2 separate regions of the Homo sapiens genome follow, and region 1 is linked to region 2. Evidence: fine-mapped expression QTL. A gene starts in region 2. The other region holds a variant in brackets. All regions are shown on one strand. Distances are between the middles of the regions.

Region 1 (15,231 bases), 68 kb before region 2:
TCCAGGGCCTCCATGGTCAGGGCCCCTGACTGGTGCAGGTACCTACAGAAAAGGCACAACAACAGAGGGAAGAAAGGGAAAAACCACAGGACATGCTCCGTCAGCACAAGCACTCCCAAGTCAATCTGAAAAGCAGGCAGCAGCATTGCAGGGGACAGGTCCTCCCCTGATCTGGGTGGTGGTCTTCTCCCACTTAAAGCACTATATACAGGGGGAGGTCCCAGGCTGGACATCTTTACCAGGGGCTGGGAGAAAGCAGGCCGTGCTCTGTGGTCTCAGAGTCTTCCTGGCGCTCTTTGGAACCTGACAGAACATGACCTCAGTCCCAGCCAGCGAGTGGCAGAGAGGACTTTGTACTTGGCTGCAATAAAACATGCCCTTCTTCGCAGAGACACGAACAATCTCGTCTCTACCAGAGGCCTGTGAGACATCAGCTCAGGACCTTGACCTGCAGACACCTCCCCTGTGCACATTCTTGATCTCAGACTTTCACAGGTGCTTTCTGTGGCAGGAAGAGTGAGGGTCCCAGGAAAGGTGTGGATCCCAGAAGTCTCACTCAGTGTCACCCTCACGGACACACTGGGAAACTGGTCCGACCGAGTCCAGGAAGACAGCAGACACACGTGTCCTCTGTGGCACCAGCTCCTGTGGACACGCCCCCAGCACCGCAGGCCATGCCAGTTACTACCCGGGCCAGGCTCGGGGACACAGCCTCATGGTCCTGAGTAGACGCAAAGGCCCATAGGCTGCGGCCTTGGGGCAGGAGCTTCTCCAGGGAGTGTGAACTTAGGCGCGCAGTAAGCGCGTGCTTGTGGTCACCACGTGGTCAGATTCGCTGTGGTGAATCTGTACCAACCCAAACTTGCCGGGAGTACAGAAAACTCTCAGAGCACTCGCACAGAAGAGCCAACAGCAAAGGTGCGTGTTCAGTTCTTTATACATCCTGGGAACCTCAGTACCAAGCCAGGCTCCAGGCTGACAGCCTGATGCTCAGAACTGCGTGACCGTTAAAAAGCACTGGCCCTCTCCGAGCTTCCTTGCCTATGAAATGGGGGGACCCTCTCCCAGCCTCCTTGCCTATGAAATGGGGGGACCCTCTCCCAGCCTCCTTGCCTATGAAATGGGGGGACACTCTCCCAGACTCCTTGCCTATAAAATGGGGGGACCATCTCCCAGCTTCCTTGCCTATGAAATGGGGGATCCTCTCCGAACTTCCTTGTCTGTGAAATGGGGGGACCCTCTCTGAACTTCCTTGCCTGTGAAATGGGGGGACCCTCTCCCAGCTTCCTTGCCTATGAAATGGGGGACCTTCTCCGAACTTGTCTGTGAAATGGGGGGACCCTCTCCCAGCTTCCCTGCCTATGAAATGGGGGGAGCCTCTCTGAACTTGTCTGTGAAATGGGGGGACCCTCTCCCAGCTTCCTTGCCTGTGAAATGGGGGGACCCTCTCCCAGCTTCCTTGCCTATGAAATGGGGGACCCTCTCCCAGCTTCCTTGCCTGTGAAATGGGGGACCCTCTCCGAGCTTCCTTGCCTATGAAATGGGGGGACCCTCTCCCAGCTTCCTTGCCTATGAAATGGGGGGATCCTCTCCGAGCTTCCTTGCCTATGAAATGGGGGGACCCTCTCCCAGCTTCCTTGCCTATGAAATGGGAGACCCTCTCCGAGCTTCCTTGCCTATGAAATGGGGGGACCCTCTCCGAGTTTCCTTGCCTATGAAATGGGGGGACCCTCTCCCAGCTTCCTTGCCTATGAAATGGGGGTCTAGAGGCAACTGAGGTTTAACCAAGGTCATGCATACAAACAGCTTGGCTAGGGACGTAGCAGAGTAAGAATTCCATAAAATGTTAATATTTTTCCACTGAAAATGTCTACCAAGTGTATGAAGTTCGATTTGCTTCTCAGTACGGACTGGGCTTGAACATTTCCATCTTTTTCCCCATAAACGCTCTGAGGAGACAAGCCCTGTGAACGTGCACCAGCTGGAACACACCGGTGCCCTTCTGGGGCTCTGGGGATTTCATCAGATTCTCAAAAGCTGCTGCTGATACAGATCATGTTCTTGGCCAGTCGCTGCTCTTAAACGCCCATGACCTTGCCCCCAAACATGAGCCACTCCAGGCATGAAGCTGCAACCCAGAGCCCATCCTGAGAGGCCACGACCTGTCAGCACTTCTGAGCTGTCCTAGAGGCGTAGGCACTTCTGGGGCTGACTCGGGGACACAGCCATCCCCAGGCACCCAGCGTGCAGCCACCACACGTGGCCACCAACGTGAGGCAGAGGGTCCTCAGCATGGGTCATGCGGCTGCTTATTTATTTACTTATTTAATTTTTTTTTTTTTTTTTTTTTTTTTTTTTGCGACAGAGTCTTGCACTGTCACCTGGGCTGGAGTGCAGTGGTGCAATCTCAGCTCACTGCAACCTCTGCCTTCCGGGTTCAAGCCATTCTCCTGCCTCAGCCTCCCAGGTAGCTGGGATTACAGGCACCTGCCACCATGCCCAGCTAACTTTTTGTATTGTTTTTTTTAGTAGAGATGGGGTTTCACTATGTTGGCCAGGCTGGTCTCAAACTCCTGACCTCGTGATCTGTGCGCCTCGGCCCCCCAAAGTGCTGGGAGTACAGGCGTGAACCACCGCGTCCGGCTGGGGCTGCTTATTTAAATCCCCTAGAAAGAGGGATTCTCCAGCTACACCACACCCTCACTTGGAAGGACCCTCCTCCCAGAGAGGGAGCTGTGGAAAAAGCCTGACCTGCCCCACAGGGCAGTAGGTCGAGCCTGGCTGGTGAGCAAGGAGGTACGGGGATCCCTGAGGCCTCCCACCCAGGGCCCAGGGAGCCTGCCTGCTGTGAGCACTTCCTCCAGTCCTGATGGACTCGGCTCTGCCCGGAGCCCCCGGTCTCTGCACACACAGCTGACTGGAGAAAGCCACTTCCATCTCATGGACAGGGACAGAACAAGGCTGAGGGAGGTGAGCAATGCAGCCAGGCCCGGGGGCTACAATGGCTGCTGGCAAAACCCACCATCTCAGCAATAGTTCAGCGCGAAGGGCTGAGAACTGTGAGAAGCGAATCGCGACGTTTATTTTGCTCTTCCTTAGCCTCTTGTGGCAGATTTGGGGCAAAACAACAGATTAAATCTTGTGTACATATATTTACATGTGGATAGACACACTGCAGAAGAGGTCTCTGTTTTGTAAACTCTAACGACAGATAACTGCAGATGGAGCTTTTTTTTTTTTTTTTTTTTTTGAGACAGTCTTGCTCTGTCGCCCAGGCTAGAGTGCAGTGGCGTGATCTGGGCTCACTGTAACCTCTGCCTTCTGGGTTCAAGCAGTTCTCCTACCTCAGGCTCCTGAGTAGCTGGGATTACAGGCATGTGTGCCACCATGCCTAACTAATTTTTGTATTTTTAGTAGAGACGGGGTTTCACCATGTTGGTCAGGCTGTTCTTGAACTCCTGACCTCGTGATCCACCCACCTTGGCTTCCCAATGTGCTGGGATTACAGGCGTGAGCCACTGCGTCCGGCTCAGATTGGGCTTTTTTTATGCCAAAGGGTACCCGTGAAGGAAACATTAAATTTTAAAGGGTGTTTCTGACACAAGGCTGTGACAGCCAACTGCAGGCTGCGCCCCATCCTAGGCACGGGAGGCCTCAAGCAGATGCCTTAGCTGGCCTTGACCGGTCTTTCATGTCACCAGCTGCAGCCTGTCTGGAGTAAAAGACTTGATGAAGCGGGGAGGAAGGTGATGCTGAAGTGGTAACAGAAGTGTAGCTGGGGATGCACGTCACGTTCCTAAGAGCTCAATGCTTCTCTTTTTCTTTCTTTTTTTGAGATGGAGTCTCGCTCTTGTTGCCCAGGCTGGAGTACAATGGCACAATCTCGGCTCACTCCAAGCTCCGCCTCCAGGGTTCAGGTGATTCTCCTGCCTCAGTCTCCTGAGTAGCTGGGATTACAGGCACCTGCTAACACACCTGGCTAATCTTGTATTTTTTTAGTAGAGATGGGGTTTCTCCATTTTGGCCAGGCTGGTCTTGAACTCCCAACCTCAGGTGATCCACCCACCTCAGCCTCCCAAAGTGCTGGGATTACAGGCGTGACCTACTACGCCCGGCCAGCTCAATGCTTTTCTGAAAGGGGTGAGCAAGAAGACAGTTAGAAAAAGATGCATGATGACGTTCACCTCTGCTTCCTCTAGCCCCTAGCCCCTAGCCCCTAAAATGACAGAAAATGGAAAACAAGTGGGACGCGGTGGCTCCTGCCTGTAATTCCAACATTCTGGGAGACCGAGGTGGGAGGACTGCTAGAGCCCAGGAGTTCAAGACCAGTCTGGGCCTGTCTCTACAAAAAATTAAAAAATCATCTGGGTATGGTGGCATGCGCCTGTGGTCTCAGCTGCTCGGGAGGCTGAGGAGGGAGGATCATTTGAGCTTGGGAGGTCTGGGAAGTGAAAACTATTGAGAGCTGTGATGATGTCACTTCACAGAGCAAGACAGAGCAAGACTGTCTCAAAAAGAAAAGAAAGCCAAGAAAAGAGAAGAGAAACAAAAAGAAAAAAGTTTTCATCCATGGCCAGGTGTGACGGCTCATGCCTGTGATCCCAGTACTTTGGGAGGCCAAGGTGGGAGGATCCCTTCAGCCCAGGAGCTCAAGATCAGTCTGGGCAACGTAGTGAAACTCCATCTCTATTAAAAATTAAAAGACTAGCCAGGCATTGGCAATGCGCACCTGTAGTCCCAGGTCCTCAGGAGGAGGAGGTGGGAGGATGGAGTGAGCCTGAGAGGTCCAGGCTGCAGTGAGCTGTGATTGCACCACGGTACTTCAGCCCAGGTGACAGAGCAAGACAATGTCTCAAAATAAAAGAAAATGGAAAACAAAAGGTTTCTGTTCTTGGCTGGGTGTGGTGGCTTACCTCTGTAATCCGAGAATTTTGGGAGGCTGAGGTGGAAAGATTACTTAAGCCCAGGGAGTCTGGGGCTGTTGTGAGCTATGCTTGCACCTATGAATTGCCACTCACTGCACTACAGCCTGGGCAACGCAGCTAGACCTTGCCTATTTTCCTTTTTTTTTTTTAATTTTTAATTTTTAATTTTTTTTTTTTTTTTGTAGAGACAGGGTTTCACTAAGTTGCTCAGGCTGGTCCCAAAGAAACCGAGTCAGAAAGGTTAAACTTCATGGTAACAACTTTAGCTCTAGAAGATAAGCAATGCCGTCAAAAATCTTACAGGAAAATGATCCCACTCTCACAGTACAAACCAACCCAAGCTCAAGTTTATCTCCTGAGCACCTCTTTTCTCAAGAAGCTACAGGAAGATACGCTGGACAAAAACCAGAGAAAACAAATGAGAAGGAAGACGGGGCCAGGGAGCTAGAGGATCCAACCCCCGAAACAAAGGAACCCACCAGTGTGGGGAGACCTGTCCAGGACCACAGCCACGAGGCCTGGAGAACGCCCGGCACAACAGGGCAGAGAGGAGGCTCCAGAGGGGATGCTCCAGAGGAAGCTGGAGAGGCGTCTCCCAGCCCTGCCAGATGCCGGGCCACGAAGCAGGACGGGGACTAGGAAGGCAAAGCAGATAAAGACACAAAGGCAGACTCTGACGGCAGCAGAGGCCACCCGGCAGCCACACTGAGTGGCTCCCTGGGAAGGGCCTTAACCCTGCATGTTTATTTCGGTAAGAACTGGCAGGGGAGGAAGATAAAAGTGTATGTTGCCATCTTTCACAGCAGGAAGCCAACAGATCTATACGAAGCTGGAAAATGAAGAAATGGTCTTTAGGAATTGGAGTCAGACCCATCCCTCACCTTCGACTCACCTTGGGGAGCTGCCCAGACCCGGCTCTGAGAAGCCAGGCTCCTCACTGGGTCTCGCTACCTCAGAGCTAACATAGAGCAGACATCTGGGGATGGCGGCCCCTTCCAGACCTTAGTGAACACACAAGAGGCCCAGCACCAAAAGCTCTGACACGTACCCTCCCTGGTCACAAATCCAGGTCCAAATTCACAGCCCTGGAAACCCCTTTCCCAACACTCCTTCAGGATACCTTCAGCCCCAAACCATGTAAAGTAACTTGCAAGAGTTTAAAAAATACCTTGGAAAAGAACATTTTAAAATGTTTTTTAAAAAACTATGATTAATTATCCACTTCAGAACGTTTTTCAGCAGGAACCAGAGACCCACCTACCTTGCCACCTTCTTGCTGGAGAGCCGCTTTGTCGGACTGTGCAGAAAACAAAATAAACAGGAAAATTGTTAGAACAGACAGAGAGGAGCAGGAGGAAGCAGGAAACTCAGGCTGTGGAGATACGAGGTGGGCGGCCTTTCAGCAATGCTCCCGGCATGCAGGGCCCCCCAGGCAAGTCCATGCACAAATGCTCACTCAGCAAAACAGCAAGGACACGGCAGTGCTGGGGTGAGGCCGCATACGTCTCGTTACTCCAGCCCCCAAAGAGGCTTCCAGATGCAGCCACCCCAGACCACGACTGAGAGGCCAGCGCCACACCTGGTCCCACCCGCTGGCTGCACTGTCCCAATGCTTCTGAAGCCAAATTACCCCCAAACGCTTGGCCTTCGGAGGCCCCCAAGTGAAAAGTGACCCAGGCCCCGCTGTGACAGGAGAGTTTGCCGCTGGCTTCGACTCAGGCACTGATGCATCATGCTCAGAACGCCTGCCTAGGCATCAGTTTGGAAACCTTTCCCGTTGCCATTTCAGGGCAGTAAATATAGCCAATTATACATCAGCTGTCTGATTTAACCATCTGCAGTGGCACATGGGCCAAACTTACCTTCTCCCTCATTTCTGAGGTCCAAAGTTGTATTTTACAGTCTAGCTGCTGAACTATTAGCCTCAGCCTGCAGGAAGACACCCTCACCCCTGGGGCCTGGGAACCATCACGGTCCTGGAACTCACAAAGCCACGTCTCTCTTCAGCTTACCTGTCTCAAAAACACCTCTGATTTTCTTTCCAGGGTCAGGCAGAAAAGTCTACTGGAGGGGCCGGGCGTGGTGGCTCATGCCTACAATCTGAGCACTTTGGGAGGCTGAGGC[G/A]GGTGGATCTCCAGAGGTCGGGAGTTCGAGACCAGCCTGGCCAACGTGGAGAAACCCTGTCTCTACTAAAAATTCAAAAATAACCGGGAATGGTGGCGCATGCCTGTAATCCCAGCTACTCGGGAGGCTGGGACAGGAGACTCGCTTGAACCCGGGAGGCAGAGGTTGCAGTCAGCCGAGATCACGCCACTGCACTCCAGCCTGGGCAACAAAGAGTGAAACTCTGTCTCAAAGAAAAAAAGAAATCTACTGGAGGAGAATCAGCTGCTGTGCCAGGTATTAACGTAGAGCCCCTCAGCTCTAAGTCCATCCTTTTTACTTGCCCTGTAGAAACAGAGCTGGGCCCTTAGCAGGCTCTTCCTCCACAATGCTGCGTGTCATCAGCAGAGGGAGCCGAGGAGTGAACACAGCAGGAAGAGGTTTGCCTCCTGGTTCTGACCACTCTCTGCAGGGCCCTCCGACACCTGCAGTCTCCCCAGTACCTACTCCAGGGAGCATCCTGCCCACTGTAGCCAGAGCCAGGGGCTTCCCCGACCCCATTCGGGTAGCTGTTCTCTAGGGGTGCCTCTGCCAAGTGTCCTGCAACAGAATAGCTTTCCTGGCAGCCAGGAGGCAGGTTCCCCACAAGCCCTGACAGCACGGTGGTGTCCCCACCACGCCGTTTGCAGCTGGTGCAGACCTCAGCCCTGGGTGGCAGTGACTGTAGCTGGGGGGCTCTGCCCCGGCCCTGGGTGGCGGCTGCTCCTGTGCCTGCTGTCCCTACACTCTGCAGAGTTCTTTTTACTCATCCCAACCAGTGCCTCATTACTCCCATAGCCTGTGACATTCTTTTCCTTTCCCTAATGATTTTTTAAATTTTTTGTTTGTTTGTTTGCATTATCTTTTCTTAGAGGCAAGGTATGACTCTGTGGCCCAGGCTGAAGTGCAGTGGTGCAACCACAGCTCGCTGCAGCCTCGACCTCCCCGGCTCATGTGATCCTCCCACCTCTGCAGCCTCGACCTCCCCGGCTCATGTGATCCTCCCACCTCAGCAGCCTCGACCTCCCCGGCTCATGTGATCCTCCCACCTCAGCAGCCTCGACCTCCCCGGCTCATGTGATCCTCCCACCTCTGCAGCCTCGACCTCCCCGGCTCATGTGATCCTCCCACCTCTGCAGCCTCGACCTCCCAGGCTCATGTGATCCTCCCACCTCTGCAGCCTCGACCTCCCCGGCTCATGTGATCCTCCCACCTCAGCCTCCCAAAGCACTGCGATTTCAGCCCACACTCAGCCCATTCTTTGTAGTATTAAACTGTCCCTGTTCAAATTACTGTGTGGCTCTCCTTTCTCGACTGGAGACTAATAATGTATATTTTAATACAGGTTTTTTTTTTTAAGATGGAGTCTCACTGTGTCACCCAGGCTGGAGTGCAGTGGCATGATCTCGGCTCACTGCAAGTTCCACCTCCCGGGTTCACGCCATTCTCCGGCCTCAGCCTCCCGAGTAGCTGGGACTACAGGCGCCCGCCACCACGCCCGGCTAATTTTTTATATTTTTAGTAGAGATGGGGTTTCACCGTGTTAGCCAGGATGGTCTCGATCTCCTGACCTCGTGATCTGCCCACCTCAGCCTCGCAAAGTGCTGGGATTACGGGCATGAGCCACCGCACCCAGCCTTAATACAAATTTAATTTTATCTTATTATTGTTGAGACTCCCTAGAACTAATAGGACAGGACAGACTCATCGTTCAGTTTACCTACTGACCTTTCAGGGCCTGGACTGGCAGCCCAGCAACAGGATTTATAATTGAAAATACACCTCCAGGTGGCCAGGTGCGGTGGCTCACACCTGTAATCCCAGCACTTTGGGAGGCCGAGGCGGGCGGATCACGAGGTCCGGAGATTGAGACATGGTGAAACCCTGTGTCTACTAAAAATACAAAAGTTAGCCAGGTGTGGTGATGGGCGCCTGTAGTCCCAGCTACTCGGGAGGCTGAGGCAGGAGAATGGAGTGAACCCGGGAGGCAGAGGTTGCAGTGAGCCGAGATCGCACCACCGCACTCCAGCCTGGGTGACAGATCGAGACTCTGTCTCAAAAAAGAAAAAGATAATATACCTCCAGGCAGGCTGGGTGCAGTGGCTCAGCCTGTAATCCCAGCACTTTGGGGGGTCAAGGCGGGCGGATCACGAGGTCCGGAGATTGAGACATGGTGAAACCCCGTGTCTACTAAAAATACAAAAGTTAGCCAGGTGTGGTGATGGGCGCCTGTAGTCCCAGCTACTCGGGAGGCTGAGGCAGGAGAATGGAGTGAACCCGGGAGGCAGAGGTTGCAGTGAGCCGAGATCGCACCACTGCACTCCGGCCTGGGTCACAAAGCGAGACTCTGTCTCAAAAAAAAGAAAAAAGAAAATATACCTCCAGGTAAGGCACACTTCTTAGTTCCTACAAAATGAAATGTATTTAGAGGCTGCAGGGTACCTGGAAAATGCAACAGCTATTGGCCTGTTCTGAGGCGACTGGACATCGTATCTGACATCAAAGCTTCCAGAGGTGGTCTGGACTAAGTCACCTGTTGCCACCCACAAAGCATGACCAAATAAGCTTACTTTCAGGCAAGTCCATGGAAACTAAAACGCAAGATTCAGATCTCCTCCACTAAGGGTTATGGGGAGGATGTTCTGACTGGCAGTTGTGTGTCCTGATTGTGTTGAATTGAATAGCATATTAACCACTTGGTAGAGTCTTTTTTTTTTTTTTTTTTTTGGAGTCAGAGTTTGGCTCTGTTGCCCAGGCTGGAGTGCAGTGGCAGGATGTTGGCTCACCACAGCCTCCACCTCCTGGGTTCAAGTGAACCTCCCATCTCAGCCTCCCAAGTAGCTGGAACTACAGGCATGTGCCACCATGCCTGGCTAATTTTTATGTTTTTAGTAGAGACAGGGTTTCGCCATGTTGGCCAGGCTGGTCTCAAACTCCTGGCCTCAAGTGATCTGCCTGCCTCCTCAGCCTCCCAAAATGCTGAGATTACAGGCGTGAGTCACTGCGCCTGGCCCGCTTCATAGAGTCTTAGGAAAAGGGGTAGCAGAACCTGGACGTGAGGCTCCACAGGACTTGCTAGTTGTACTTAGCTACATCCTAGTCCCTTCTCTGCCCCCACAAAGCCCAGCAGAGGCGACCATGGCCATCTTGGAGCTAGTTCTCAATGTGGGAAAAAATCAGTTCTATGTCAAAAATCTTCAGAAAATGAGAGACGAGACCTGAGTCTTCAGGCTTACTTTCATGTACGGAGATGACATGCTTGCACTCAACTTATCGGTGAGTGGGAGGGCAAGTCTCTGCGTGGGAAGAACAAATGGCCCCTCCCCAAGCAGGCTGAGCCATCGTCGCCGGGCCTTGAACCCCTAGCTGAACACACACGCAGGCAGAAACTGATTTCCCCTAAAACAGAGGTTAGCGGATCTTTGGAATCCAAGATTCTGGACGGCCTCGGGTCTCCCGGGAGGGCCCTGGGCGGCCTCGGGTCTCCCGGGAGGGCCCTGGGCGGCCTCGGGTCTCCCCGGGAAGGGCCCTGGGCGGCCTCGGGTCTCCCGGGGAGGGCCCTGGGCGGCCTCGGGTCTCCCGGGGAGGGCTCTGGGCGGCCTCGGGTCTCCCGGGAAGACCCTCTTCAAAGAGCACTTCTGCTTTCTCACCAGTGCTGCCAAGACCCCCGATGCTCCAGAATGGCCATCAGTGCCGGGCCCCACCCCCATCCTCTCCACCTGAATGGGCACTGGCTGGGGGCCCTGTGCTTCACAGCATTTCACAGAACATAAGAAGAGTTAAGTGCCCTGGAAATGGAACTAGAGGCAGGACAGAAGCCTCAATAAGGCCGTGGGCAGTGAGCGCCCGCCAGCAAGGATGTGCCTCGGCAGAAGCCCCCTGGGGCAGGGACAGGGCAGGCTCAAGACAGGTAAGCAGTTTCACAGATACCTCTAAACATGCTAGAACCGTCAGGATAACTCACCTTTCTGCCACCTTTACAAACCCTCCCCACAGGCCAGGTCCCGTTCTTCAGGAAGCCGTCCCAGATTGCCAGCATGAGCCTGTATGCTCACTCACCTCTTCTGCTAGGCTAGGGCTGCTGTGGAAAGCTCCAAAGTGGCCCGTTTCTTCACCAGACCCTTCTGGAGAGCTGCCCACCCAGGGGCTTCACCGCAAGCGAAATCAACACGATGCCCAACGGGCACGTCAATATGTGCAAAGCACTCAAAACCGTCTTCTGTAACTGGGAGTTAGACATGAGGGCCAGCCACAAGAGCTCCCCTGCTGAGACACAGTGAGCTCCCTCACACGCTCACTGTGAGTATTCAAAACTCCATTTAAACTGACAATCCTGAAAGCTGTTTACATATCTGTTCTTAAAGACTAAATCTTTAACTTTCCCAATTCTGTCTCATGAGCTCAATGAAAGAAATCTTTTAGTAAAATGCAGAAAGTATCCTCTTTCACACACAGGACAGACAGCACAGCTTGCAAAGACCGATCACTTCCTCCCACCAAGACAAGCACTGGCCTGGGCTGCGCATGCAGGGGAGGAGGCAGGGCCCTGGTGGCCCCACAGCGTGCAGGGTGGGAGGCGGGGCCCCAGGGAGAGTCCCGCTGCCTGAGAGGCTCCTGGTCGCCTCGGGGCAGGCCCTCAAGGGGGCTGTGGGTATCCGGAGTCCCCCACACCCTGGGAACAGACAGCAAGGCCAGGCGCTGGTCAGTTACCTATTCATTTCAAGATCACTCAGGCGGGCAGAAAGATCCTCAAGGCGGTTGATTTGTTTGTGGCACTGGCTACAGTAAAACTCAAACGCCTCATCAGTGAGGATGCTGTGCAGCTTTGCGGCAAGAGGGTCAGTGCTAGAGAGACAGAAGCATCCGTTCAGGAGAGGATGAGGACCCGTGTGGTCATCTGTGACTCCGCACGAGGGGCCGAGGGGAACAGGACAGGACATGGTGTGGAACAAAAGCACGTGGAGAGAGAATGAGCTGTGCAATGTTCTGGCTCTTGCCTTTAGACCGCAGTGAGCCCACATCCCTCAGCTGCCTCCAGGAGCCCAGGACAGGCACCAGCTCGAGCCTCAGGGGGCCCTGCACACACCTGCTCCTCTGGGTCGGGTGCCCAGAAGAAAGCAGGGGCAGCCTGAGAGCCTCCTTGCAAAGCAAAAGCCCTTCTTTAACAAGAAGGTAAAAAACCATACTGCTTTCTCTTTTGCCAAAAACACATCAATGTGATAGCGAACCATGTCTCCGGGTAAACTTGTACTTACTGTACTATATTTATGATTACTCCAAAAACCACCTCTAGCAAAAACTATGCATGAATGATAAATCTACAATAGTTTTGTGATTTTTTAAGATGTGCGTTAAAGCCGGGCATGGTGGCTCCTGCTTCTAATTCCAGCACTTTGGGTGGATCGCTTGAGCTCAGGCGTTTGAGACCAGCCTGGGCAACATGGTGAACCCGTCTCTACAAAAAATACAAAATTAGCCCGGCGTAGTAGCTCATACCTGTAGTCCCAGCTACTCAGGAAGCTGAGGGAGGTGGAGGCTGCAGTGAGCCATGATTGCACCACTCCAGCCTGGGCAATAAAGTGAGATCCTGTCTCAAAAAACCCCCAAAAAGACCGACCTGTCGAAACTCAGTGTTAGATTTTGTGGTGGTGCTAGCTAACCTCCCTGTGACTTCACCTCCAAGGGCTTCTGGGCCACTGGCAGGGGTGCTGCGTCTGCGACGCGAAGGCAAAGGAGCAAAGGCAGCCTCATCGCGGGCGCTGGGACCCACATGCTGTGGGAAACCATTTGGAAGCTCAAGTAAAGAAAGGTGAAAAGTGAAACATACAATGTAGCATAGACATTACACTTCAAACAGGTAACAATGAAAACACTGAACAGGAGACAGGGACAAACTAAACACGTAGGAAGAGGTGATTACCAAGCACAGAGACCCAAGTTTAGAAACGCCCCAGTCCTCTGGCCCTTGTCTTGACACCACCACGCGCTGGGAGAGGAAAGTGCCTAAGACAAGCACACTGCCTCTGAGGACCGTCTGTGATGCCTCACTCATGCACAGCTCTCCCAGGACGCTCGCCGGGACCAGAGCACACAGGATATCCGTGCAGGGTCCCCACACCCAGGGCTGACGGGCGGCTTCAAGGAGGGCACATGGGAAACAAAAGGAGGGGGACCCTATGGGCAGACGAGCTGCTCAGCCCCTCCTGCACCGCCCTCCACCCAGGTTCCCTGGGCCTCAGTAACAGCGGGCGGGCAGCAGGCAAGGGAAGACTCTTGTGGCTGCTTAAAGAGGCTCGGCCTTGACTGCTGGCAAAGATGGACGACAACCTAGTAGCAAAGGGGAGAAGGGATTGAAGTAACAACCCCATCGGCCAGCCCAGGGTCTCCCTGAAGTCAGGAGCGTCCTAGAGGGACTGACTCCCACGTGGGAGCCCCTAGCCCTCAGAAGTACGTACCCAGACCCCCATGTTCGGATCCAAGCCAAGAGGACTCTGGACTCCCTAGAGTGACTCTGGACATTTGTGAGTGGGCATCTCGCCCACTGCGTGTTGTGCTTCTATTTATTCAGAGTCACAGCTTTCCAGTTTGGGGATGTCAGATATTTATAAGGAAATGAATCTGAAGACTCACTTATGATCATGAGGCCTCCCTCAAAAGCCTGCACAGACCACCATGTGATCCACGGCCCACAGCAAAGGAGCCCGCAAGCCAAGTGTGCAAACACAGCTCTGTGCCACAGGATTTTGCTGAAGCCTCAGAAATGTAGAGTGATCTGGGGATGTGGCTGGAGAAGAGGGACTTCTCCCAACTTTCATAAATCCAGGTATAAATTTAAAATGTTTGAATATGGTTTACTTAATCACATGACGTCAAGGAAAGCAAGTTCTCTCACCAATGCACGAACCAAAAAGGGAAACTTCCCACTACTAACCACGGGAAGAAGAGGGAGGAGGGTGTGCTGGAACAAGGCGTCATTACCTGGGCGTGAGGAAAGCGGGGTCACTGCAGCCCAGCTGCCCGTTGCATAGGGTCTCTGGGGACAGCTCCGCCTCACTGCCTTCACCGTAGTCCTCAAAGTGCTCCTCGCCCCCGATCACCGTGATGACAGACTGGCCATGGGGGTGAGGCCTGCAAAGTAAAACAGAAATGATGTCTTCTGACTGAAGGCCAGGGCACCCCCGAGCTGAGGGTGTGGAAGGTGCTTTCCATAGGGTGTGCTACAAGCCACACGTGAGTCCTGGGAGCCACGTTTAAAAAAAAAAAAAAAGTGGGCTGGATGCGGTGGCTCACACATGTAATCCCAGCACTTTGGGAGGCCAAGGCGAGCAGATGGCTTGAGCTCAGGAGTTTGAGACCAGCCTGGGCAACAGGGGGAGGCCTCAACTGCAAAAAACATTTTTAAATCACCCAGGCATGGATGCGCACGACTGTAGTCCCAGGTACTCGGGAGGCTGAAGTGGGAAGATCGCTTGAGCCTGGGAGGCCAAGGCTGCAGTGAGCAGTGATGATGCCACTACACTCCAGCCTGGGTGACAGAGCAAGGCCCTGTCTCAAAAAAAAAAAATAAATAAATAAATCTGTTTCTTTACCTTTTTTTTTGAGACAGAGTCTGGCTCTATCGCCCAGGCTGGAGTGCAGTCGTGCAATATCGGCTCACTGCCAGCTCCGCCTCCCGGGTTCACGTCATTCTCCTGCCTCCACCTCCCGAGTAGCTGGGACTACAGGCGCCCGCCACCACGCCCGGCTAATTTTTTGTATTTTTAGTAGAGACGGGGTTTCACCGTGTTAGCCAGGATGGTCTCGATCTCCTGACCTCGTGATCCACCCACCTCGGCCTCCCAAAGTGTTGGGATTACAGGCGTGAGCCACCACGCCTGGCCCGAATATATTTTAACAAAAAATTTTACTTAGCCCAACACGCAGTCATTTCAAAACCTCCAGCCTCTTCACACTCCTCACTCGTGTGCCCTCCCACGTCACAAGTTCCGCAGCCCCACACAGGACAGCACAGGTCGACACAAAGCAGCATCTGGGTTCAAGCACCTCTGCCTCTTCCCTAGGGAGCTGCTGTCCTCACACAACCACTGGGGGGCGCCGTTCAAACTCTACTTTAAGCTAAAACGTAACAGCAGCTGCGACAGGGAAAGGAAGGGGCTTCCAAATA
Region 2 (15,231 bases):
TGAGCCACTGCGTCCGGCCATCCTTAACAATTCTGAATCTTCCTGGGGACAAGTAAACCTTAGGTTTCCATTAAAGTATACATCTGCCAGGCCAGTGGCTCATGCTTGTAATCCTAGCACTTTGGGAGGCCAAGGTGGGAAGATCACTTGAGCCCAGGAGTTGGAGATCAACATGGCAAAACCCTGTCTCTATAAAAAATAGAAAAATTAGGCAGGTGTGGTAACACGTACCTGTAGTCCCAGCTACCTGGGAGGCTGAGATGGGAGGACCACCTGAGCCTGGGAGGTCAAGGCTGCAGTGACCAGTGATTGCACCACTGCACTCCAGCCTGGGCAACAGAGTGAGACTCTATATCAAAAAAATAAAGTATACATCTGGCAGGGTGCAGTGGCTCACGCTTGTAATCCCAGCACTTTGGGAGGCTGCGGCACGCAGATCACTTGAGGTCAGGAGCGCGAGACCAGCCTGGGCTAACATGGCGAAACCCCGCCTCTACTAAAAATACAAAAAATTAGCCGAGCATGGTGGCACATGCTTGTAATCCCAGCTACTAAGGAGGCTGAGGCAGGAGAATTGCTTGAACCCAGGAGGCGAAGGTTGCAGTGACCTAAAATCGTGCCATTGCACTCCAGCCTAGCCAACAATAGTGAACTCTGTCTCAAAAAATAAAGAAATTTTTAAATAAATAAATATACATCTGATATCAGAGACCTTCAATTTCAAAAAATTTAGGTCAACTACTATACAATCCAGCAATCCCACTACTGAGATTTATCCAAAGGAAAGGAAATCCATATACCACAGGGATGCCTGCACCCCATGTTTACTGCAGCACTGTTCTCAATAGCAAAGATATGGAATCAATCTAAGTGTCCATCAACAGTTGAATGGATAAAGAAAATGTAATATAGATACACAATGGAGTACTTTTTTTTTTTTTTTTTGAGACAGAGTCTCGCTCTGTCACCCAGACTGGAGTGCAGTGGCACGATCTCGGCTCACTGCAAGCTCCACCTCCCAGGTTCACGCCATTCTCCTGCCTCAGCCTCCCAAGTAGGTGGGTCTACAGGCGCCCGCAACCACACCCAGCTAATTTTTTTTTTTTTTGTATTTTTAGTAGAGACAGGGTTTCACCGTGTTAGCTAGGATGGTCTCGATCTCCTGACCTCGTGATCCGCCCGCCTTGGCCTTCCAAAGTGCTGAGATTACAGGCGTGAGCCACCGCATCCGGCCTGGAGTACTATTTGGCCACGTAAAAAAATGAAATCATGTCATTTGCAGCAACGTGGAAGGAAATGGAGGTCATTATGTGAAGTCAAGTAAGACAGGCAGAGAAAGACAAATATCACGTTTTTACTCTTATGTGGGAGCTAGAAAAGTGGATCTAATGGAGGTAGAGAATAGAGCGATTGATATCAGAGGCTGGGAAGCATCAGGAGGGTAAAGAGCACGGTTAATGGTTAGAAATATGCAATGAGCGGTGGCTCACGCCTGTAATCCCAGTACTTTGGGAGGCCCAGGTGGGCGGATCACCAGGTCAGGAGTTCGAGACCAGCCTGGCCAACATGGTGAAACCCTGTCTCTAGTAAAAATACAAAAATTAGCTGGGCATGCTGGCATGTACCTGTAATCCCAGCTATCAGGAGGCTGAGGCAGGAGAATGGCATCAACCCGGGAGGCAGAGCTTGCAGCGAGCTGAGATCGCGCCACTGCACTCCAGCCTGGGCAAGAGACAGAGACTATGTCTCAAAAAAAAAAAAAAAAAAAAAAAGATAAATATGGAGGTGACAGACACCCCAACTTGATCATTACAGTGTATGCCTGTAACAAAATACCACATGTACCCATCCCATGAATATGTACAAATATTTCTATCAATTAAAAAGAAACAGCTCAGGCTAGGGGCAATGGCTCATGCCTGTAATCCCAGCACTTTGGGAGGCCAAGGCGGGTGGATCACGAGGTCAAGAGTTTGAGACCAGCCTGGCCAACGTGACAAAACCCCATCTCTATTAAAAATACAAAAATTTAGCCGGAGTGGTGGCAGGCGCCTGTAATCCCAGCTAAGTGGCTGAGGGAGTCTGAGGCAGGAGAATTGCTTGAACCCGGGAGGCAGAGACTGCACTGAGCCGAGATCGTACCACTGAACTCCAGCCTGGGCCACAGAGCGAGACCCTGTCACACACACACACACACAAAAAAAAAAAAAAAACCAGGTCAAAAAGCAGATTCAAAGCAACATGCATGCAAATTATAACATTTATCTATAATCAAGTATGTATTACATACATTTTAATTTACATATTAAATATTTAATTATCTCTTAATGATATTAATGGATGGGGGGATTACAAGGGCTCCTTATTTTTCTTATTTTATCTACTAGTATTTTACCTACTAGTTTTAGTTTCTTTTTAGTTTTTCGAGACAGTTTCACCCTTGTCGTCCAGGCTGGAGTGCAATGGCAAGATCTCAGCTCACTGCAACCTCTGCCTCCCAGGTTCAAGCGATTCTCCTGCCTCGACCTCTGAAGTACCTGGGATTATAGGCGCCTACCACCACACCCAGCTAATTTTTGTATTTTTAGTAGAGATGGGGTTTCACCATGTTGGCCAGGCTGGTCTCCTGATCTCAGATGATCCACCCGCCTTGGCCTCCCAAAGTGTTGGGATGACAGGTGTGAGTTACCGCGCCAGGCCAGTTTCTTTTAAAACAATGAACATCTATAAAAATAATTTAGCTTCACTGGGCGCCATAGCTCATGCCTATCATCCCAGCACTTTGGGAGGCCGAGGTGGGCGGATCATGCGGTCAGGAGATCAAGACCATACTGGCTAACACGGTGAAACCTCATCTCTAATAAAAATACAAAAAAATTAGCCGGGAGGGGTGGCGGGCGCCTGTAGTCCCAGCTACTCAGGAGGCTGAGGCAGGAGAATGGCATAAACCCGGGAGGCGGAGCTTGCAGCGAGCCAAGATCACGCCACTGCACTCCAGCCTGGGTGACAGAGCGAGACTCCATCTCAAAAAAAAAAAAAAATTTAGCTTCTACCCCAATATGATCTCAATTGTGTACTTTTATAGACAGTCACCTGTGTGTCTATGTCTGTGTTAAAAAAGGTCTGGGCCAGGTGCGGTGGCTCACATCTGTAATCCCAACACTTTGGGAGGCTGAGGCAGGTGGATCACTTGAGGTCTGGTGTTCGAGACCAGCCTAGTCAACACGGCGAAACCCCGTCTCTACTAAAAATATAAAAATTAGCCAGGCGTTGCACGCCTGTAGTCCAAGCTACTCAGGAGACTCAGGCAAGACAATCGCTTGAACCCACGTGGTGGAGGTTGCAGTGAACTGAGATTGTGCCACTGCACTCCAGCATGGGCAAGAGAGCAAGACTCTATTTCAAAAAAAAAAAAAAAGTCTGAAAAGAAATGTAGTAAAATAATGGGAATGTTATTTTTCTCAGGATAGTGGGATTATTGGTCATTTTCTGTTTTATACAACCCAAGCTTCATTTGCCTTTCAGCAATTCAGTCAGCATGTAGACCCAGAATACATACACTCACCTGCTCACACACATACATAATATGCCACTTACACACAAATATCCCACTCCCACATACACACATCCCTGATCCTGCAGACACATGCTCCCACACATCTCACCGCACACACATATTACACACACACACACCAGCTCACATATGTAACTGCTCACACACACACATGCTCACTCTCATTCACACACACTTTCACTCAAATTCAAGGCTAAGAGACTGGAAATGATACAGGGCAAATAAAAGGCGATGCCAGGCTGGGCGCTACGGCTCATGCCTGCAATCCCAGAACTTTGAGAGGCTGAGGCCCGAGGACGGTCGCTTGAGCCTGGGAGTTCAATAATATGCCTGGGCAGTATCACTATACTATACTTCATCTCTACAAAAATAATTTTTAAAAATGTTTGTATTTTTAGTAGAGACGGGGTTTCACCGTCTCCTGACCTCATGATCTGCCCGCCTCAGCCTCCCAAAATGCTGGGATTACAGGCGTGAGCCACTGCACCCAGCCAATTTTTTTAAATTAGCGGAGCATGGTCATGCCTGCCTATAGTCCCAGCTACTCAGGAGGCTAAGATGAGAGGACTGCTTGAGCCCAGGAGGTGGAGGTTGCAGTGAGCTGAGATCTTGCCACTGCACTTCAGACTGGGTGACAGAGTGAGATCCTGTCTCAAAACAAACGAACAAAAAGGTGCAGTCAAATGTCCCTAGGAACTTCCTACTGCCACCATTAGCGGTGCAGGAATAAAAAAACGTAGGGAGATCTGAGCATCGACACTTCCTTCGGCAGCCTATTTCTGCAAGTACTGAAGACAGACAATGCCTACCAAGGTTACTGAAGGACATTCTCTGAAAAGAATCAGTGGCTATTAAAACGCAACTGCTTAAGTGACTGTAAAAATAACATGTAAATTACAGTTATAATCTTTAAAAACAAAACAAAATTAAAGTAATCCTTTCTCACAACACTCTTAGAATTTATTTTACAATCTCTGCTTCATGATAGGTGGCAGTAAATACAAAAGCATCAGTCCTCTCAGTATGAAGGGGTCATGTCAATCTCCAGAGATGGTTGAAGCCTTAAAAATCACCTATTCCAACTTCATACCTAATTCCTGGACACATCTGACTATAAATTCCTGTTTCAAAAAAATATAACCAGAAAGCTCCACTTGCTCCTTTCATGTGCTGATTTCTGCTAACACAACACTGTGTTATATTACACTACACCTGATCTATCACCAGATGACGTAATTAGATCCAAACACACCATGACATTGCTAAAGAAACAGGGACACAAAAGCCATCTGTATTATAAACAGGAGCTGCTTCTATTAAAAATTCAGATAATCCATTTAAATAATTTAAAATGCTACCTTCATAAACAGATTACATAGAAGATACTCAATATGCTACCTCTGAAAATTTGATAAAAATTAAGATACTTGGCCGGGCACAGTGGCTCATGCCTGTAATCCCAGCACTTTGGGAGGCCGAGGCGGGTGGATCACCTGAGGTCAAGAGTTCAAGACCAGCCTGGCCAACATGGCAAAACCGTCTCTACTAAAAATACAAAAAATAGCCAGGTGTGGTGACGGGCACCGGTAATCCCAGCTACTCGGGAGGCTGAAGCAGGAGAATCGCTTGAACCCGGGAGGCAGAGGTTGCAGTGAGCCGAGATCACACCATTGCACTCCAGCCTGGGCGACAGAGCAGGCGAGACTCCATCTCAAAAAAAAAAAAAAATTAAGATAATCTAGTTGTTATCATCAAGGACAGTAATGTGACTGGACTAAGAGTCTCTCATGTGCTCAATATTTTGAAATCTCAAGGTAGAAAGTACAAAAACTTATGACCTTTATTGCTGTTATCCAGTTAATCTGAACTGTTCCCTAGCGTTTTTAAAAAAATCATTAATGTCTTTAAAAGAATCGGTATCTTTTGGAAATATATACTGAAGCATTTATGGAAGAAATGATATAATGTCAGGAACCCACTTCAAAAATCATCTGGGGGTAGTGAGTGGTGAGTTTACAGATGAACCAAGACTGCTAAAACTGAGCAATGGCTACAGGGTTACATAACATGAAAATCAACCTTTCTTTACCCTGTAAATTATCTGTTGCCAAACAGTAACTTAGCTTTAAGAAATCAAGAGCTCTCCTCCATCCCAGGAAGCCGGCCCAAGTCCAGGCACTCAGATCACACCCAACATTGCTTCTTCCTAAGCCGTCTAGAAGAACAGACAAGGAGTAATACCACAGGAGATCCCTTCCACTTCCCCATCCTCACCAAATCCCAAGTCATCCAGCCCTTGCCCCCAACCTTCGAATTTCATCAAGAGCTCTTGGAATTCAGAGTGAAGAATTTTGTCTCATTTCTACTTTGTGATGACAAGAAAGCTCAGCCCCAAATAGCAACACAAAGTTTTTCCCATTGTGATCATTAAGGGAGGTTATGACAAAAGATGTTTCTCAAATAAAAAGAATTGTATGAAAGTCAGTAAGATATTATCACAATAGGGATATTGTGAGCCACCACATCTAAGAAGAGGCATCTAAGGTCTAAGGGCCAAAAGACCTAGTTCTACTCCTGTGAGACCTTGGGAGAGCTATCTGACCTTTCTGGGTTTCCAGTTTCTTACCTGTAAAGTGGGGATGAATCCTGCTTACCTACTATCTCAGAGAACTGTGGTATGATCCAGTGGAAACATCCTGAGCCTCACAGAAGTTCTCTATCAAGAGTTGGGTTATGGTAACAAGGAGCAAATGTGGTACTCTCCTAACTTCTTTGCTGTACTGAAGCAAGAGTATGTTTGGGAGAAGAGACAGCGCAGTAGCCAACAGCAACCAAGGGAGCTCAAGGTGCTCTCCAGCCCAGGGGCAAGAAGGAAACGCAGCAAAACACCTGGACCAGCAACCACCATCCACGCTGACCATACAGGAAAGTATCAGTCACATATTTCACTGCCCATTAGTGTAGGTGGAAAACTACCCTGACAATATCCCAACCGGAGCTAAGCTTGCGAGCATTGCAGGCTGCCCCGCACGCACCTGTCTGCACATCTTCTTAATGTGAACTCAGCAAGGAACCCTGATTTATCAGGACCCTGTGTTTTTTGTTTTGTTGCTGTTTTTTTTTTTTGAGACGAAGTCTCGCTCTGTCGCCCAGGCTGGAGTGCAGTGGCGCGATCTCCGCTCACTGCAAGCTCCGCCTCCCGGGTTCACGCCATTCTCCTGCCTCAGCCTCCCGAGTAGCTAGGAGTACAGGTGCCCGCCACCACGCCCGACTAATTTTTTTGTATTTTTTAGTGGAGACGGGGTTTCACCATATTAGCCAGGATGGTCTCAATCTCCTGACCTCGTGATCCGCCCGCCTCGGCCTCCTAAAGTGCTGGGATTACAGGCATGAGCCACCGCGCCCGACCATCAAGGTTCTTAATGTTATGACTGACACCCTAAATAGCAGTGTGCCAATTTTACCTCTTTTCTTACAGACCTCTTGGCTTAAACATGCATATGTACTTGAACACCCACTTACCAGATGTCTGCATGTGTGAGAAGTCAAAATACAAAAAATTGACAGATGCACCTTAGGGATTTCCTGCTAAGTAAAATATTTAAAAGTGAGCACTGGTATTATTTGATGTCCACCGGGTTATTGGCAGAACACACACGGCCCTGCTGTTATCTCCACTTAAACTTTATTAAGTGCTGAGGTAGACAGGAACAACTGCATCTTGGGGCCCACCTTTCCCCCAGGAGCAGGTGCCCTGAGGACCGCGTGGACCCCTTCCACACTGTACTGTGCGTAGTGCCTGTCCACGCATTTCACCTCTCCTACGAGAGTGGACGTGGCCCTAACGGAGTTCTGCTAGACTTCTGCATTTGCCAACAAGCTCCGAGGCTCATTGCCTTCCTCCCCAAAGGCACCAAAGTAAAAATTCTTAATTCCAGGACTCTCTACAAGCATTGACTGTCTCCCAAATAAAAGATGAAATCTAAGTAGAAAAGATGTCAACCACACACAGTAAAGTAATTGTACTCAAAATAGGTGTCTATCAGTAGGATCTCAAGGCGTCTGGGCAGCCTGGCCTCTGCGGCTAGAACTTGGGTGAATTCAGCCGAGCAGTATCTGGGCCCTCGGGTGGGGGAATCGCGGGGAACTTCTTCATTCAGGGGCACGTCGATCAGGCACCCTGGGGGGGTGGCGATCAGGCCCCCTGGGGGGGTGTCCCCAGGCGAGGAGCTGACCTCGGTAAGATCCAGCTGACGAGGCGCTGGGGGGAGGGGAAGAAACTGACTCCCCAGAATAGAACCTCCTTTTAAGAAGGGAAGAGGGACTCCAGCGCAATTCAACCAGAAATCCAGGGCCGAAGTGGTGAATAAGCAGAAAAAGCAGGACCGTCAGGTCTTGACAGTGCCTTTCCCGACTCCAGGGGCAGCGTCGACCGGTCCCACATCAACCCCGCCGGCCAGCGCGCACCTGCCCAGTTCCCACGCCCCGGCCCGGGCCGCTCCGTACCTGCTCTGCCCCGTAGACCGTAGCAAACTGGATGAAGTCCTCGATGCGGACGAAACCGTCCCCATCCCCGTCCAGGGCATCGAACACGGCTCGGAGGCGGGGGCCGTCCTCCTGACTCCCCACGGGCTCGCTCGGAAGGGGGTGGGTCTGGCTGAGGTCCGAGGGCTGCGGCGGGGACCCGGGACCTTGCTCCAGCGCCAGCTCGCCCGCCGTGGGCGCGGGGAAGGGAGAGAAGACGTCGACCTCGCCCCGCGCTCGGTGGCTGCTGCTGGACCCCTGCAAGCGGAAAGGCGCGCTCTCCGGGCAGCTCGCGGGGCCACACTCCTCGGGCTCCTCAGTCCAGGAGAACAACGGGTCGAGTTCTGGAAGCGGCGCTTCGGAGCGCGGCCCTGGGCCCGGGGCGTCGGGGCTCGCAAGCTGCCCCCGCGGGCCGGAGCGCGGCGGCGGGGCGGACGGCCCGGGGTCTCGCGGGCCTCCCTCCAGCCCCGGGGCCGGCCCGGCGCTCCAACGCGCCCCGCCATCTGCAGCGGCCCCGGGCGCAGGCTCATCCAGGCCCGGGGACTGCGGGTCGGGGCCGCCGACGGGCGCTCCGAGGCGTAGCTCCGCAGGGCCCGGAGCCAGTTGTGCCGCCCCCGGCCCGTCCGGCCCGCCCGGCTCCGGGTCGGGCCCCGGCGGCTCCGAGCCCGGGGGCGAGGCCGGCGGGGCCGACGCCATGCTCCCGAGAGGCTAGTGGTGCGGAAGGGCGCGGGCGGCAGACAAAGGCGCTCAGGGCGCGGCGGCGGGCGCGGGCATCCCCTCGGCGGCGCGGGCGGGCGCGCGCGGGGCGCCCGGGCTGCTGGGGCTGGCGCTCGGGCCCTGCTCTGTCCTCGCCCATCTTCGCACCGCGCCTCAGCTGCCCTCGGCCCGGCGGCGCGGCGGGCGCAGGCCCATGGCGGCGGGGCGGCCTAGGGAGGGCGGCGAGGATCCGGGCGGCGGATGGCGGGGGACGGGGGCCGAGGAGGCCGGGGGACGGGGGCCGAGGAGGCCGGAGGCCGCGGAGCCTGTGAAGCAGGATGAGGAGACTAAGGAGGCTGAGGCGCCTGAGGTACCCGGAGAACTAACGCCGCCGCCGCCCAGGCCCCGCCCCCCGTCGGGCCTGACGTCAGCACGTCCCGGCGGGGTCCCAGCCCCTCGCCGGCTTGCTGTAGAGGCAGGCGCCGGGTGTGTCGCGGCAGTGCAGCGGCCGCGAAGGGGTGTTTTGCTGTATGTCATATTCCTCGTTTCGCCAGAGCGGGGGTCCCGAGCTTCGGGCGCGGGACGCGGGGGTGCTCCGAGGCTGCGAGTGGAGGCGTGACGTGACGTCCCTGGCAAGAGGCGCGCGGAGTCAGGCCTTACTTAGAACGTGTTCCCGCCGCACAGCTACCAGCGGGCGCGACCGCTACCCACGCATGGTGCGGTCGAGTAAACGGCACCGCCTGGCGAGCGAGAGACGCAAAGGGACATAGCCCCCTAGGAGCTGAGCTCTTCGGGGGTAAAGCGTTCTCACGTTGATGAGACCAGGAGGCGGCGCACGCCTGGCTCCGCGGCCCAGGGGTTGCAGGTGCCCCAGGGTTCGCGGGGCGCAGACGCCGCAGAGGGCGACGCCCTGCCCGGGTCCCGCGCGGACCCGGGGGACGCAGGGTCTGACACGGAGTGCGGAGGGGCCCCAGACACGCAGTCCATGTCCCTTGAAACCAGAGGCACGCGCGGCCACGCGCTAGGCCTTTCCCTTAAGCCTGTGACCAAGATCTCCGGGACTCCCAGCGTTGGGACGGGCGCGCTGGCCCACGCCCAAGCGGGAGGATCGCTTGCGCCCAGGAGATTGAGACCAGCCTGAGCACCAAAGCGAGACCTCGTCTCTACAAAAAATAAGACTCAAGAAGACACCCAGGGTGAATCGCCCGTCTGCAGCCAGCCTCCCGAGCACCGTGGCCGCGTCTGACAACTGACCTCTGTGTCTGGGTGTCCCTGTCCTCAGAGGGACACGGGACCTCAGAAAGGACCACAGCCCGGCGGCAGGCATGATGGTGGGAAAGCTAGTTAGGACAGGTGAGGCACTAAATTTAGCCTGTCATAATTTGTATCAGGGAAATGATGAACTTGTATTTTTACACACCATGGGCACCAACACAAGATATGGTTTCGTAAGCAGCTTTGGCAAGAACCAAAGGAACGGAACCTCTGCTTCCAAGTGTACGGTCAGGAGCAGCGTGTTAATTAAGTGAGTCATCTTCCGTGGCAGAATCCCAGGGTACATGGGACCAGACTTCGCGAGGCTGGCATTAGGAAAAGGAATGTGAGGGATCCTCCTCCCCAAACCGTATTCTCATTTTCTTGTAAGAGCTGTACGTGTTCATGAGGAAGATACTGCATTCAAAGAACGAAATCACCAGCAGCTTTGGCAAGAATTCAAATTTGGGCTGATGCCTTCGGCCGGATAAAATTTTCAGAAGCAGTGATAGTGATGTGTCAACCTTTCTAAATAGGGGTGTTAGTGTGGGCGAGGCAGAGACAGCAGGCTCCCTCTGCTTTTATGTGCCGGCGCTGCCAGAGGCAGAAGGCTGGCTTTCTGAGAGCAGGGGCCCGCACGCTCTGTCTGTGCTAGGGCTGGAAAACGTCCATTGCGTGCCCGGCTGGTGTCCTCCATGGAACCACAGCCTGGAAGCCTGCACCTCCCTGCCTGGACCAGTTAGAGGCTGTTCATGAAAGACTAAAGGGACAAGTTCCCGTCTATCCGTCTGCTGTTCAGAGCTACTATCTGTGTCCCCTTTGTAGGCTGTGGGCTGTAGCAGTTCCTTCTTTTCTTTTCTTTTCTTTTTTTTCCCCGAGACAGGGTTTTGCTCTGTTGCCCAGGCTGCAGTGCAGTGGTGCGACCATAGCTCACGGCAGCCTCAACCTCCTAGGCTCAAGAGATCCTCCCACCTTAGGCCAGGTGTGGTAGCTCATGCCTGTAATCCCAGGACTGTGGGAGGCTGAGGCGGGCGGATCACGAGGTCAGAAAATGGAGACCATCCTGGCTAACACGGTGAAACCCCGTCTCTACTAAAAATACAAAAAAACAAAAATTAGCCAGGTGTGGTGGCAGGCACCTGTAGTCCCAGCTATTTGGGAGGCTGAGGCAGGAGAAAGGCGTGAACCCGGGAGGCAGAGCTTGCAGCGAGCCAAGATTGCACCATTGCACTCCAGCCTGGATGATAGAGCAAGACTCCGTCTCCAAAATAAAAAATAAAAATAGAAGAGAGATCCTCCCACCTCAGCCTCTCCAGTAGCTGAGACCACAGATCTGCAGCACCTTATTATCTTTTTTTTTTTTTTGATATGGAGTCTCACTCTGTCGCCCAGGCTGGAGTGCAATGGCGCGATCTCTGGTCACTGCAACCTCCGCCTCCCGGGTTCAAGTGATTCCCCTACCTCAGCCTCCTGAGTAGCTGGGATTACAGGCGTATGCCACCAAGGCCGGCTAATTTTTTGTATTTTTAGTAGAGACCGGGGTTTCACCATGTTGGTCAAGCTGGTCTCAAACTCCTGACCTCAAGTGATCCGCCCACCTCGGCCTCCCAAAGTGCTGGGATTATTGGCATGAGTCACCACACTTGGCCTCAACATGCGTTTTGGAGGGTATAAACATTCAAAGCATAGCCTCCATCTTCTCACTCTGTCCTCACATGTTGGAGAAAGATTGTCTCTTTTGGGCTGGGCGTGGGAGCTCATGCCTGTAATTCCAGCACTTTGGGAGGCCGAGGCGGGTGGATCACGAGGTCAGGAGTTCAAGACCAGCCTGGCCAAGATGGTGAAACCCCGTATCTACTAAAAAATAGAAAATTTAGGCCGGGCGCGGTTGCTCAGCCTATAATCCCAGCACTTTGGGAGGCAAGGTGGGCGGATCACAAGGTCAAGAGATCGAAAACATCCTGGCAAACATGGTGAAACCCTGTCTCTACTAAAAATACAAAAATTAGCCGGGTGTGGTGGCACCCACCTGTAGTCCCAGCTACTCGGGAGCCTGAGGGAGGAGAATCGCTTGAACCTGGGAGGCAGAGGTTGCAGTGAGCGAAGATCGCACCACTGCACTCCAGCCTGGCGACAGAGCGAGACTCCACCTAAAAAATATATGTATATATTAGCCGGCCGTGGTGGCGGGCACCTGTAATCCCAGCTACTCAGGAGGCTGAGGCAAAGAATTGCTTGAACCCGGGAGGTGGAGGTTGCAGTGAGTCAAGATCACACCACTGTACTGCAGCCTGGGTGATGGAGTGAGACTCTGTCTCAAAAAAAAAGAAAAAAAATTATCCGGGGGCGGTGGCGGGTGCGTGTAATCCCAGCTACTCAGGAGGCTGAACAGGGTAATCACTTGAGCCTGGGAGGCAGAGGTTGCAATGAGCTGAGATCCAGCCACTACACTCCAGCCTGGGCAACAGAGCGAGACTATCTCAAAAAAAAAAAAAAGGCGGGCGTAATGGCTCACGCCTGTAATCCCAACACTTTAGGAGGCCAAGGCGGGTGGATAACCTGAGGTCAGGAGTTCGAGACTAGCCTGGCCAACATGGTAAAACCCTGTCTCTACTAAAAATACAAAAACTAGCTGAGCGTGGTGGCGTGTCCTGTAATCCCAGCTACCTGGGAGGCTGAGGCAGGAGAATACTTGAACCCGGGAGGTGGAGGTTGCAGTGAGCCAAGATCCCACCATTGCACTCCAGCCTGGGCAACAAGAGGGAAACTCCATCTCAAGGAAAACAATAAAATAAAAATAAGGCTGGGCACGGTGCCTCACGCCTGTAATCCCAGCACTCTGGGAGACCGATGCGGGTGGATTACCTGAGGTCAGGAGTTCAAGACCAGGCTTGCCATGGTGAAACCCCATCTCTACTAAAAATACAAAAAATTAGCCAGGCATGGTGGTGCATGCCTGTAATCCCAGCTACTTGGGAGGCTGAGGCAGGAGAATCACTAGAACCTGGGAGGCGGAGGTTGCAGTGAATCGAGATTGTGCCATGGCACTCCAGCCTGGGCAGCAAGAGTGAAACTCCGTCTCAAAAAAAGAAAAAAGAAAAAAAAAGACTGTCTCTTCTAATAAGGGCACTGTTCCCATCGTGAGGGCCCCACCTTGCTGACCGTATCTAACCCTAATTATTATTATTATTATTTTTTTTTGAGACGGAGTCTTGCTCTGTCGTCCAGGCTGAAGTGCAATGGCGCCATCTCAGCTCACTGCAATCTCTGCCTCCCGGATTCATGCCATTCTCCTGCCTCAGCCTCCCCAGTAGCTGGGACCACAGGCACCCGCCACCATGCCTGGCTAATTGTTTTGTATTTTTACTAGAGCCGGGGTTTCACCGTGTTAACCAGGATGGTCTCGATCTCCTGAGCTCATGATCCACCCGCCTCGGCATCCCAAAGTGCTGGGATTACAGGCGTGAGCCACCGCGCCCGGCCCTAACCCTAAGTTATACCTCCCAAAGACCTCATCTCCAAATACCATCCCGTTGGCGTTAGGACTCCAATATATAAATTTTGGGGTAGCAACTGGGAAGAGAGAGTTAGAATGGATTTAATGGACAAAATATTCATTTCTAGAATACACAAAAGAATTTCTCAAAAAACAGTAAACGAACAGCAACCCGATAGAAAAACGAGGAAAGAATATGAATAAGCAGCTCCAGAAGAGGAAATTCAGGTGGCCGGTAAACACATGAAAAAGATGCTCATCTTCACTGGTCACCAGGAAAATGTGTGAGTGTAGCCCTTGACACCAATCAGAGTAAGTCTGGGGACACCAGGGAGTGGGGATTTGGCACCAGTCGTGCAGCTGAAGGTCGGAATACTCCAGTGTGGGATCCGCCTTCCAGTACCTGCCGGAGAAACTGCACATGTCCGCAGGGAGATGGAAAGACCTTGTTTCCTTCGGGGATTTGTACTTCTCTGGAAGAAGAGCCGAACGGCTTCAGTGGAGCCTGTTGTCTGTTGTGAAGTGTAGCAGTTTAAGTGAGTGCACCACATCTGCACAATTGATAGTACATGCTATGTAATACCATTTTTCATTTATTTTTTTAGACAGAATTCTGTTCTTGTTGCCCAGGCCGGAGTGCAGTGGCACGGTCTCAGCTCACGGCAGCCTCCATCTCCTGGGTTCAAGCGATTCTCCTGCCTCAGCCTCCCGAGTAGCTGGGATTACAGGTGCCCGCCACCACACCCAGCTAATTTTTGTATTTTTCGTAGAGACGGGGTTGCACCATCTCGGCCAGGCTGATCTGGAACTCCTGACCTCAGGTGATCTGCCCGCCTTGGCTTCCCAAAGTGCTAGGATTACAGGCGTGAGCCAACGTGCCTAGCCAATTTTTGTTAAGTTTAAAAACACATGATCAATGACCTATCTTGTTTTCAAATGCTTTCGTTTGTAGTAAAAAATACCTAAACATACTTGAGAATTACATTGAGGCCGTGTGCGGTGGCTCACACCTGTAATCCCAACTTTGGGAGGCCAATGGGGTGGATCACTTGAGGTCAGGAGTTCAAGACCAGCCTGGCCAAAATACTGAAACCTGTCTCTACAAAAATACAAAAAATTAGCCAGGCATGGTGGCGCATGCCTGTAATCCCAGCTACTGGGGAGGCTGAGGCAGGAGAATTGCTAGAACCCCGGAGACGGAGGTTGCAGTGAGCTGAGATCACACCATTGCACTCCAGCCTGGGTAACAGAGCGAGACTCTGTCTCAAAAAAAAAAAAAAAAAGAAAGAAAGAAAAAAGAATTATATTCAAGAGGACAGACAGAAGAGAAAGGGTGAAGTACAACTTTGACTATATCTATAACATTCATTTCCACTGGGCACAGTGGGTCATGCCTGTAATCCCAGCACTTTGGGAGGCTGAGGCAGGAGGATCACTTAAGCCCAGGAGTTCAAAAAACAAACAAAAAAACATTAGCCAGGTGTGGTGGTGCACACCTGTAGTCCCGGCTACTCAAGAGACTGAGGTGGGAGGAGCTCTTAAGACCCAGAGGTTTTTCTGGATTCCACATATAAATGAGACCATGAAGTCTTCTTTCTCTGACTGGCTTATTTCACTTAGCATAATGCTGGAGTCCAGTAATTTGAAGCTGTAGTGAGCTGTGATTGTGCCTGTGAATAGCCCTGCA

Evidence for each region. PIP is the estimated chance that this variant, and not a neighbour inherited with it, causes the effect.
Region 1: its variant is fine-mapped to the expression of RAB11FIP3 in whole blood (INTERVAL, PIP above 0.99).

The regions. Positions count from the first base shown.
Region 1 is chr16:487,815-503,045 of GRCh38, reverse strand. RAB11FIP3 (RAB11 family interacting protein 3) reads right to left here. Exons shown (of 14, transcript NM_014700.4): 5 at 14,046-14,195; 6 at 6,187-6,222; 7 at 1-42. It overlaps LOC107987417 (a long non-coding RNA gene), which reads left to right and starts at 9,506. Exons shown (of 3, transcript XR_007064933.1): 1 at 9,506-10,477; 2 at 10,721-10,977; 3 at 11,064-11,673. RefSeq lists enhancers at 7,507-8,084, 8,085-8,663, 10,122-10,743, 15,075-15,231. The variant G/A (reference allele first, on the strand shown) is at 7,050.
Region 2 is chr16:419,570-434,800 of GRCh38, reverse strand. RAB11FIP3 (RAB11 family interacting protein 3) reads right to left here and starts at 9,152. Exons shown (of 14, transcript NM_014700.4): 1 at 8,081-9,152. The coding sequence starts at 8,794.